Homo sapiens: one gene and its partner. The protein of the gene in region 1 interacts with the protein of each later gene in a biochemical or structural test. Each region holds a gene or a part of one and is shown in the gene's direction. Other genes may lie near its edges.

Evidence for each region.
Region 2: of the proteins of PTPN11 (region 1) and MAPT, one has a biochemical effect on the other in vitro, tested with the Homo sapiens proteins (one study listed by BioGRID).

What each region holds. Positions count from the first base shown.
Region 1 is NC_000012.12:112,449,661-112,453,446, forward strand, and holds part of PTPN11 (tyrosine-protein phosphatase non-receptor type 11), read left to right. Parts: intron 1-657; coding exon 658-852; intron 853-3,534; coding exon 3,535-3,727; intron 3,728-3,786. UniProt on the Homo sapiens protein: Acts downstream of various receptor and cytoplasmic protein tyrosine kinases to participate in the signal transduction from the cell surface to the nucleus. Positively regulates MAPK signal transduction pathway. Dephosphorylates GAB1, ARHGAP35 and EGFR.
Region 2 is NC_000017.11:45,984,891-45,988,676, forward strand, and holds part of MAPT (microtubule-associated protein tau), read left to right. Parts: intron 1-2,149; coding exon 2,150-2,205; intron 2,206-3,786. UniProt on the Homo sapiens protein: Promotes microtubule assembly and stability, and might be involved in the establishment and maintenance of neuronal polarity.

The sequences.
Region 1 (3,786 bases):
TCTATTATGAATAAAGTGGCAATGAATATTTTTGTACAAGTGTTTTGGTAGCTATACAGTTATTGTCACTTAATATATGCAATTCGATAGGCCAGTCATTCAAAATAGAAGATATACAAGGTAGGCCGGGCGTGGTGGCTCACGCCTGTAATCTCAGCACTTTGGGAGGCCGAGGTGGGTGGATCACCTGTGGTTAGGAGTTTCAGACCAGCCTGACCAACATGGAGAAACCTCATCTCTACTAAAAATACAAAAGTAGCTGAGCGTGGTGGCGCATTCCTGTAATCCCAGCTTCTTGGGAGGCTGAGGTAGGAGAATCACTTGAACCTGGATTTATAATGTATGTAAATCCACCGCGAAGGTTGCGGTGAACCGAGATCACGTCATTGCACTCCAGCCTGGGCAATAAGAGCGAAACTCCATCTCAAAAAAAAAAAAAAAAGATATGCAAGGTAAAGATACTAATAAAGACCTTTGTGTTGAGTTGGTTGACATGTGGTTATTTCACCCATCGTATTTCTTATAGGGAATAGGTAAATTCGTTCCTTGGGTTTCTTTCAACACTTAGGTAAAATCCGACGTGGAAGATGAGATCTGATTTTACTGGTGTAACTCTTTATTTGTCCCCTTGCCTCCCTTTCCAATGGACTATTTTAGAAGAAATGGAGCTGTCACCCACATCAAGATTCAGAACACTGGTGATTACTATGACCTGTATGGAGGGGAGAAATTTGCCACTTTGGCTGAGTTGGTCCAGTATTACATGGAACATCACGGGCAATTAAAAGAGAAGAATGGAGATGTCATTGAGCTTAAATATCCTCTGAACTGTGCAGATCCTACCTCTGAAAGGTCAGTAACATTTTAGTGACCACAAAGTCTGCTGCTCCCTTGTGCCCTGAGTGTCAGAAATGCATGACGGTCTGTGTATGACTCTCTGACTCCAAAGGCTTGTGACTGTTTTTTGAGCTGTAATCTTTAAAGAATTACTAAAGTGAGACTAATAGCATCAAATTATTTTCAGAGTACCTTTTTCCTGCAAAAGTTTTAATCAGTGTTACTTACACTCATCCTATAGGGGTTGCATACCATTCCTGCATATACTTGGTACGTGTATTAGTTTTAAGACTTATTGAACTTCAGCAGATAATCTTTGAGAGTTATTAGAGGAAAACAAATGATAATGGAGACACCAAAATAGCAGCAGTTTTCTATGGTGGCTCTCGACCAGTTATTCAGCAATGTCACCAACAGATGTCAGTTTAAGCTCAGAAGTGGAAAAGCAGAGAGCTCAGAGGGTCAGCTTTTTCATCAGTTCTTTTAATGTTATCACCACAATTATGTGAGAATGACCTTGCTTAGAGAAAATTATGTTATTTTCGAGATCTTTCCCCCTGTGTTGGAACTAGGCTGATGAAAGCATGGGCTTGACTTATTTATTGATTGTATTCGTTTTGTACATTCCCAATCTCCTCTCTGACTTGGTGCAAATTCAGGATCTCTTAGTTAGTTTGTATATTTTGTGTCTTCAGGTATGATTTTTTCAGCTTATACCTTTATGTCAGTGCTATTATGTGCTGATAATTTGTTTCTCTAGCTACCACCGTAGCTTCAGGCAAAAGGCTGTCAGCCAACTCTGTACAGTTTATTTCTAAATTTTACTGTTTTCAGTTGAGTATGGATGAAGAATAACTCAAAGTTTATTCTTTTGATGATGAGCCCTTAACACCACCTGCCATGATAGTACTTGCTTTCTGACCAAGATCCTGAGGGAAAAAGCCACTTTATTATTAGAACTATGTTAAGATGCTTCCCAAAAAACATGGAGCAGTATTGTCTCAAAGTCTGTCCTTGGATGGCTTTGGATGCCTACATCAGGACTGTCTGATGTGCTGGTTAAAATGCAGATTCCTGGGCCTCATTCAGACTTACATGTATTGATATTGCTGGTTGTGGAGCCTGGGAATTCATATTTTTAGCAAAATCCCTCATTTTTACTCCAAGTCTTATGTGCATTATACAGTTTGAGATGATCACCCAGGATATAGTCCAAAGACACTGGAGGCTGTTGAAGTATAGGTTGTATATATGGAAAAGGTTGGAATGTTTGAATTAATTTATAATGAAGATCCTTTTTAATTGAGTGTTCACATGCCAAGGCAAGGACAAACATTCAAAATGATTTTCTGTCTCTGTTACAACTTTTTCTTTCTTTTTTTTAATTTATTTATTTGAGATGGAGTCTCACTCTGTCACCCAGGCTGGAGTCAAGTGACGCGATCTCGGCTCACTACAACCTCCGCCTCCCAGATTCAAGTAATTCTCTTGCCTCAGCCTCCCGAGTAGCTGGGACTACAGGCATGTGCCACCATGCCCAGTTAATTTTTGTATTTTTAGTAGAGACAGGGTTTTGTCATGTTTGCCAGGCTGGTCTCAAACTCCTGAACTCAGGTGATCCGCCCACCTTGACCTCTCAAAGTGCTGGGATTATAGGCGTGAGCCACCGTGCCTGTCTCTATTACAACTTTTTATTACAACTTCTTTATTTTGACTTTATTTTTACAAATTATTTATTTATTTTTTTTGAGATGGAGTTTCGCTCGTCACCCAGGCTGGAGTGCAATGGTGCGATCTCAGCTCACTGCAACCTCCGCCTCCCAGGTTCAAGTGATTCTCCTGCCTCAGCCTCCTGAGTAGCTGGGATTACAGGCACTTGCCACCACACCCGGCCAATTTTGTATTTTTAGCAGAGACAGGGTTTCACCATGTTGGTCAGGCTGGTCTCGAATTCTTGACCTCAGGTGATCCACCTGCCTCGGCCTCCCAAAGTGTTGGGATTACAGGCATGAGCCACCACGTCCGGCCGACTTTTATTTTTTTTTCTTGAGACAGGGTCTTGCTCTGTCACCCAAGCTGGAGTGCGGTGGCATGATCATAGCGCACTGCAGCCTCGACCTCCTGGACTCAAGTGATCCTCCTGCCTCGGCCTTGTGTATAGCTGGGATTACAGGCAGTTGCCACCATGCCAGGCTAATTTTTAATTGTTTTGTGAAGATGGGGATTTCACTGTGTTGCCCAGACTGGTCTTGAACTCCTGGCCTCAAGTGATCTTCCTGCCTTGGCCTTCCAAAGTGTTGGGATTACAGGCATAAGCCACTATGCATGGCCTGTAACTTCTTTAAATGGCTATAATTAAACAGTTGGTCCTTTTAAGATTGGGCAATGGACGAATGGCAAATTGCATTTTTAAAAGAGGAGGGATTTAAAAAAAAACAGGAAAGATTGGGGCATTTGTCTCTAAAGGACTGTGGACTCATTTAAGAAGTTTAGTGGTCATTCTTACCATCTTTGTGGTTTTTCCTGCCTGCATGGGATGCAGATTTTCTGTCTCAGGTGGGATTGATCAATCCCTTGGAGGAATGTGTCTACTTTTTAATTGTGTTTAGGAGAGCTGACTGTATACAGTAGTTTTGTGAAAGAACAACATGAACCCATAGTAGAGCTAAATTCTTTTTTATTTTTTAAAAACTTTAGGTGGTTTCATGGACATCTCTCTGGGAAAGAAGCAGAGAAATTATTAACTGAAAAAGGAAAACATGGTAGTTTTCTTGTACGAGAGAGCCAGAGCCACCCTGGAGATTTTGTTCTTTCTGTGCGCACTGGTGATGACAAAGGGGAGAGCAATGACGGCAAGTCTAAAGTGACCCATGTTATGATTCGCTGTCAGGTAAATCTCCAGTTGAAAAATGGGTCTGGCAAGATGTTACCTTTGGGTGATTTTTCTGC
Region 2 (3,786 bases), on another chromosome or scaffold:
TTTGCAGAGCCCAGAAATGGATGTTACTGAAGCTCACAGTTGCAAGCATCTGTTAAATTTTTATTAGATTTTACTTTTAGGGAAAACTTTGAAATGCTATAAAGAAGCCTGTGTTTAAAAGTTAAGACAGAGGCTGGGGGCGATGGCTCACGCCTGTAATCTCAGCACTTTGGGAGGCCAAGGCAGGTGGATCATTTGAGGTTAGGAGTTCGAGACCAGCCTGGCCAACATGGTGAGACCCTGTCTCTACTAAAATTACAAAAAATTAGCTGGGCGTGGTGGCGGGCACCTGTAGTCCCAGCTACTGGGGAGGCTGAAGCAGGATAAGTGCTTGAACCCAGGAGGCAGAGGTTACAGTGAGCCAAGATCACACCACTGTACCCTAAGCCTGGGCGACAGAGTGAGACTCTGTCTCAAAAAATAAAATAAAATAAAGTTAAGAGAGAAAAAAATATATCCTATATCCTTTGTTAAATTCCAAAACAGTAGGGGACAAATAACTGACTTGACAGGTTACTACAATATTTCCTGAAATGATGTTTTCTTGAATACTGGCCTACTAGAGGTTCATAGGTGTGTTTGGATTAAAAAAGAGTTCCATGGCCCAGTGACTGGGGGAAAAAAATAAAAGACTAAAGTAAGTTAAACAGGCTTTTCTGCTGCAGGACTTGTCAGAGCCTTTAATGTACTAATGGCCATTGTGACCCTCTGAGAAGGTCACAGAGTGGGTTTCCCAAACTTACTTGATTCTACCTGCTAACATTTCCTGGAGGAAGTTTGGGAAATGCCGATTTAGCAGATTCTTTTGTTGTGCCGTGGATGGTGCTGGTTGATGTGGGCAAAACAAAGAACACGTGAGTCAGATCCGCCTGGGGCTCTTACTAAAGTGCAGGTTCCCAGGTGCCACTTTAGGCTTACAGACCCAGTTGTGGGGTAAGCCTGGGAGTCTTTTAGCAGGTGATTCTGCCACATAGTATAGTTGGAAAACCTCTGGGCATACTCATTGCTGGTCCCTCTAGAAATCCAGGTGACAATAGCCAATGAGAAGCTCCAAGAGACCCAGTTGTCCATGGGGTAGAGGGAATGTGATATTGAAACCAAAGAAGAAAATCTATGATCAGTTTTCAGCAGTGACTGTCAAGAGAAGGAGAAGGGTGAGTTAGCGCTGATGCTGGCTGACAGGTCAGCGGGTTGGTTTCACCAAGGAGTGTGATGAAGGCTGATGTTGTCTGTGGGAATGTATGATGGTAACTGGTTTGTAGCTAATTTGGGGAAGCAGTGAGAATTCGTGCCCTTTGAAGACCAGTAAGTGGCAAGAAACCCACCAGGCCTGGCTCAGGGCTGGGCTGGGCTTGGCTCGTCTCAGAGCAGCTGGGGCTGGTGGCCAAAGCCACCATTAGTGAGGGGCAGGCCCTGGGGGTACAACCAGCAACTAGGGGACAAAGACAACCCTGCCAGCCTCTCCTATTCTGGAGGCGTGTGACCAGAAATGGAGATGGGTTGGTCAGCATAAGATGGCCAGGAAGGTGGAAATCAGGACTGCTGGCAATCTAGCCACATGGGCAGGGGAGCCGGGTGGTTCCAGGCAGTTTCCAAGGCCAAGAGGGTGAGCAGGCACCTCACAGGGAATCAGGGCCAAGCCTGGCTGCAGTGTGGAGACAATGCACCCACCCCCATCCTTGGATCTTGCAGGAGGCTGGGTCCTCACTGAGCTACCAACATCCATGGCCCTGAGGCTTTTAAAACACCCATCCATGGAGTGGGGCTGGTCCCAGTGGGGTGAGGCTGACCCTGGCAGAAACAGGGCAGGAGCCTGTGGGTTAGGGAGACTGCACCTTCCTTAGATAGCCTCCATGCCATCATGTCCCCGTGACAGTTTCTGCTGCGTCCCCTCTGCATGGTCCCACCCTCGGCCAGCCTGCTGCCCCCTCTTGCCAGGTTGCGCTAATCAGTGACCCCAGTGTGCTGTGTTGATACTAACAATGCGAGGCCTAGCAGATTCAAGGGAAAAGAGAACCAACTGGGTTTCCACCAGACCCAACTAAACAAACATGGACCTATCCCAGAGAAATCCAGCTTCACCACAGCTGGCTTTCTGTGAACAGTGAAAATGGAGTGTGACAAGCATTCTTATTTTATATTTTATCAGCTCGCATGGTCAGTAAAAGCAAAGACGGGACTGGAAGCGATGACAAAAAAGCCAAGGTAAGCTGACGATGCCACGGAGCTCTGCAGCTGGTCAAGTTTACAGAGAAGCTGTGCTTTATGTCTGATTCATTCTCATATATAATGTGGGGAGTATTTGTCACTAAAGTACAGCTGTCATTTAAAGTGCTTTGTATTTTGGGGCAGGCTTTTAAAAAGTCCAGCATTTATTAGTTTTGATACTTACCCCAGGGAAGAGCAGTTGGCAGGTTCATGAAGTCATGCTCCTAATTCCAGCTTTCTTAGTGTACTTTCAGTGAGACCCTGACAGTAAATGAAGGTGTGTTTGAAAACCAAACCCAGGACAGTAAATGAAGGTGTGTTTGAAAACCAGCCCTAGGACAGTAAATGAAGCCATCTTCTCACTGCATAAACTGCACCCAGATCTTCGCCCATCCTTCTCAGTATTTCACTTCACCCATTGTTTACTGTCTCAATGACTGGGGAAATGTCTGGGGAAATGCTCCCGTAATTGCACAGTGGCGTTTTTCCTGGAAAATCCCACCATGGCTCTAGATAAGACCTATTTTTCTTAAAGGTATCTAAAATTTCCAGCATAAATTCTGTCTGAAACACCTGAATTTTAATCAGTACTGGAGCCCGGAGGGCATCTCCAGTTGCCACATAGCTCTGAGCATTCAGTGGTGTGTTGAGGGCTGCTCCCGGAAGTGCCTGCAGAGTCAGGGCTCCCCAGCCTCATCTAGTGAGGCAGTGGAAGGGCCTGTGGGGATTTGGAGAGCTGGCCTGGGTCTCTGAAGTGATAGTGACAGCTGCTTGTCAATCACGGTGCACATTTAGTGCTGGGGGCAGGGGGCAGGGAATACCAGCCTCATGCATGCATGCATTCATTTGTTCCTTCCTTCATTCATTCATTCAGTACACATGGGTACAACATCCCTGCCCTGGAGTTGCCCAGAGTCTAGGGAGGGGAAAGATCTATTACCCTGGGCCTCGGCCAGCTGGGGAGTGCTGCTGGTGGAGAGGGGCCGTGTGCAGCGAGGGAAGGAGGAGTCGTCAATACCCCCACCCCAGCTTTGCTTTCTTGTCATCAGCCCCAGGGCCCCAGCCTGTGTCCCTCCTCTCCCATTGCTACTTCATCTCCTGGGTCCTCCTTACCAAGCCTGACCACACAGAGGGCCTTGGCCGCTTCCATGGGGAATTGGAAAGCAATAAGATAGCATCCCCTAGAAGCCCAGTGAAGTCTGGGACAGGACCCTTCTCTGAGCTCTGACTTGCTCTTGGAAACACTTCGAGGCTTAGCCTCCCCACTTTGTTTCCCGAGAGTGTGACCTGTTCCCCTCCAAACACCCCCTTCTCCTCCAGGGCCATGCCCACCCGTCAAAATCCCCCACGGGCAGGACGAACTGTGGGTGTCAGTCACCATCTATCCTGCATCCTGGTTCCAGGGCCCCCCCCAGCCCCGCCTCCATAGGGACAGGCGTGCAGACACCCGTCCCTGGCTGCTTCCTCTTGTGGAATGGGTTCAAAAGTAAGCAGTGTTGTTTACACTGACAAACTGAAAAAAAAAGAAAAAGAGATAACATTGGAGGCTTGGCACAGTGGCTCATGCCTGTAATCCCA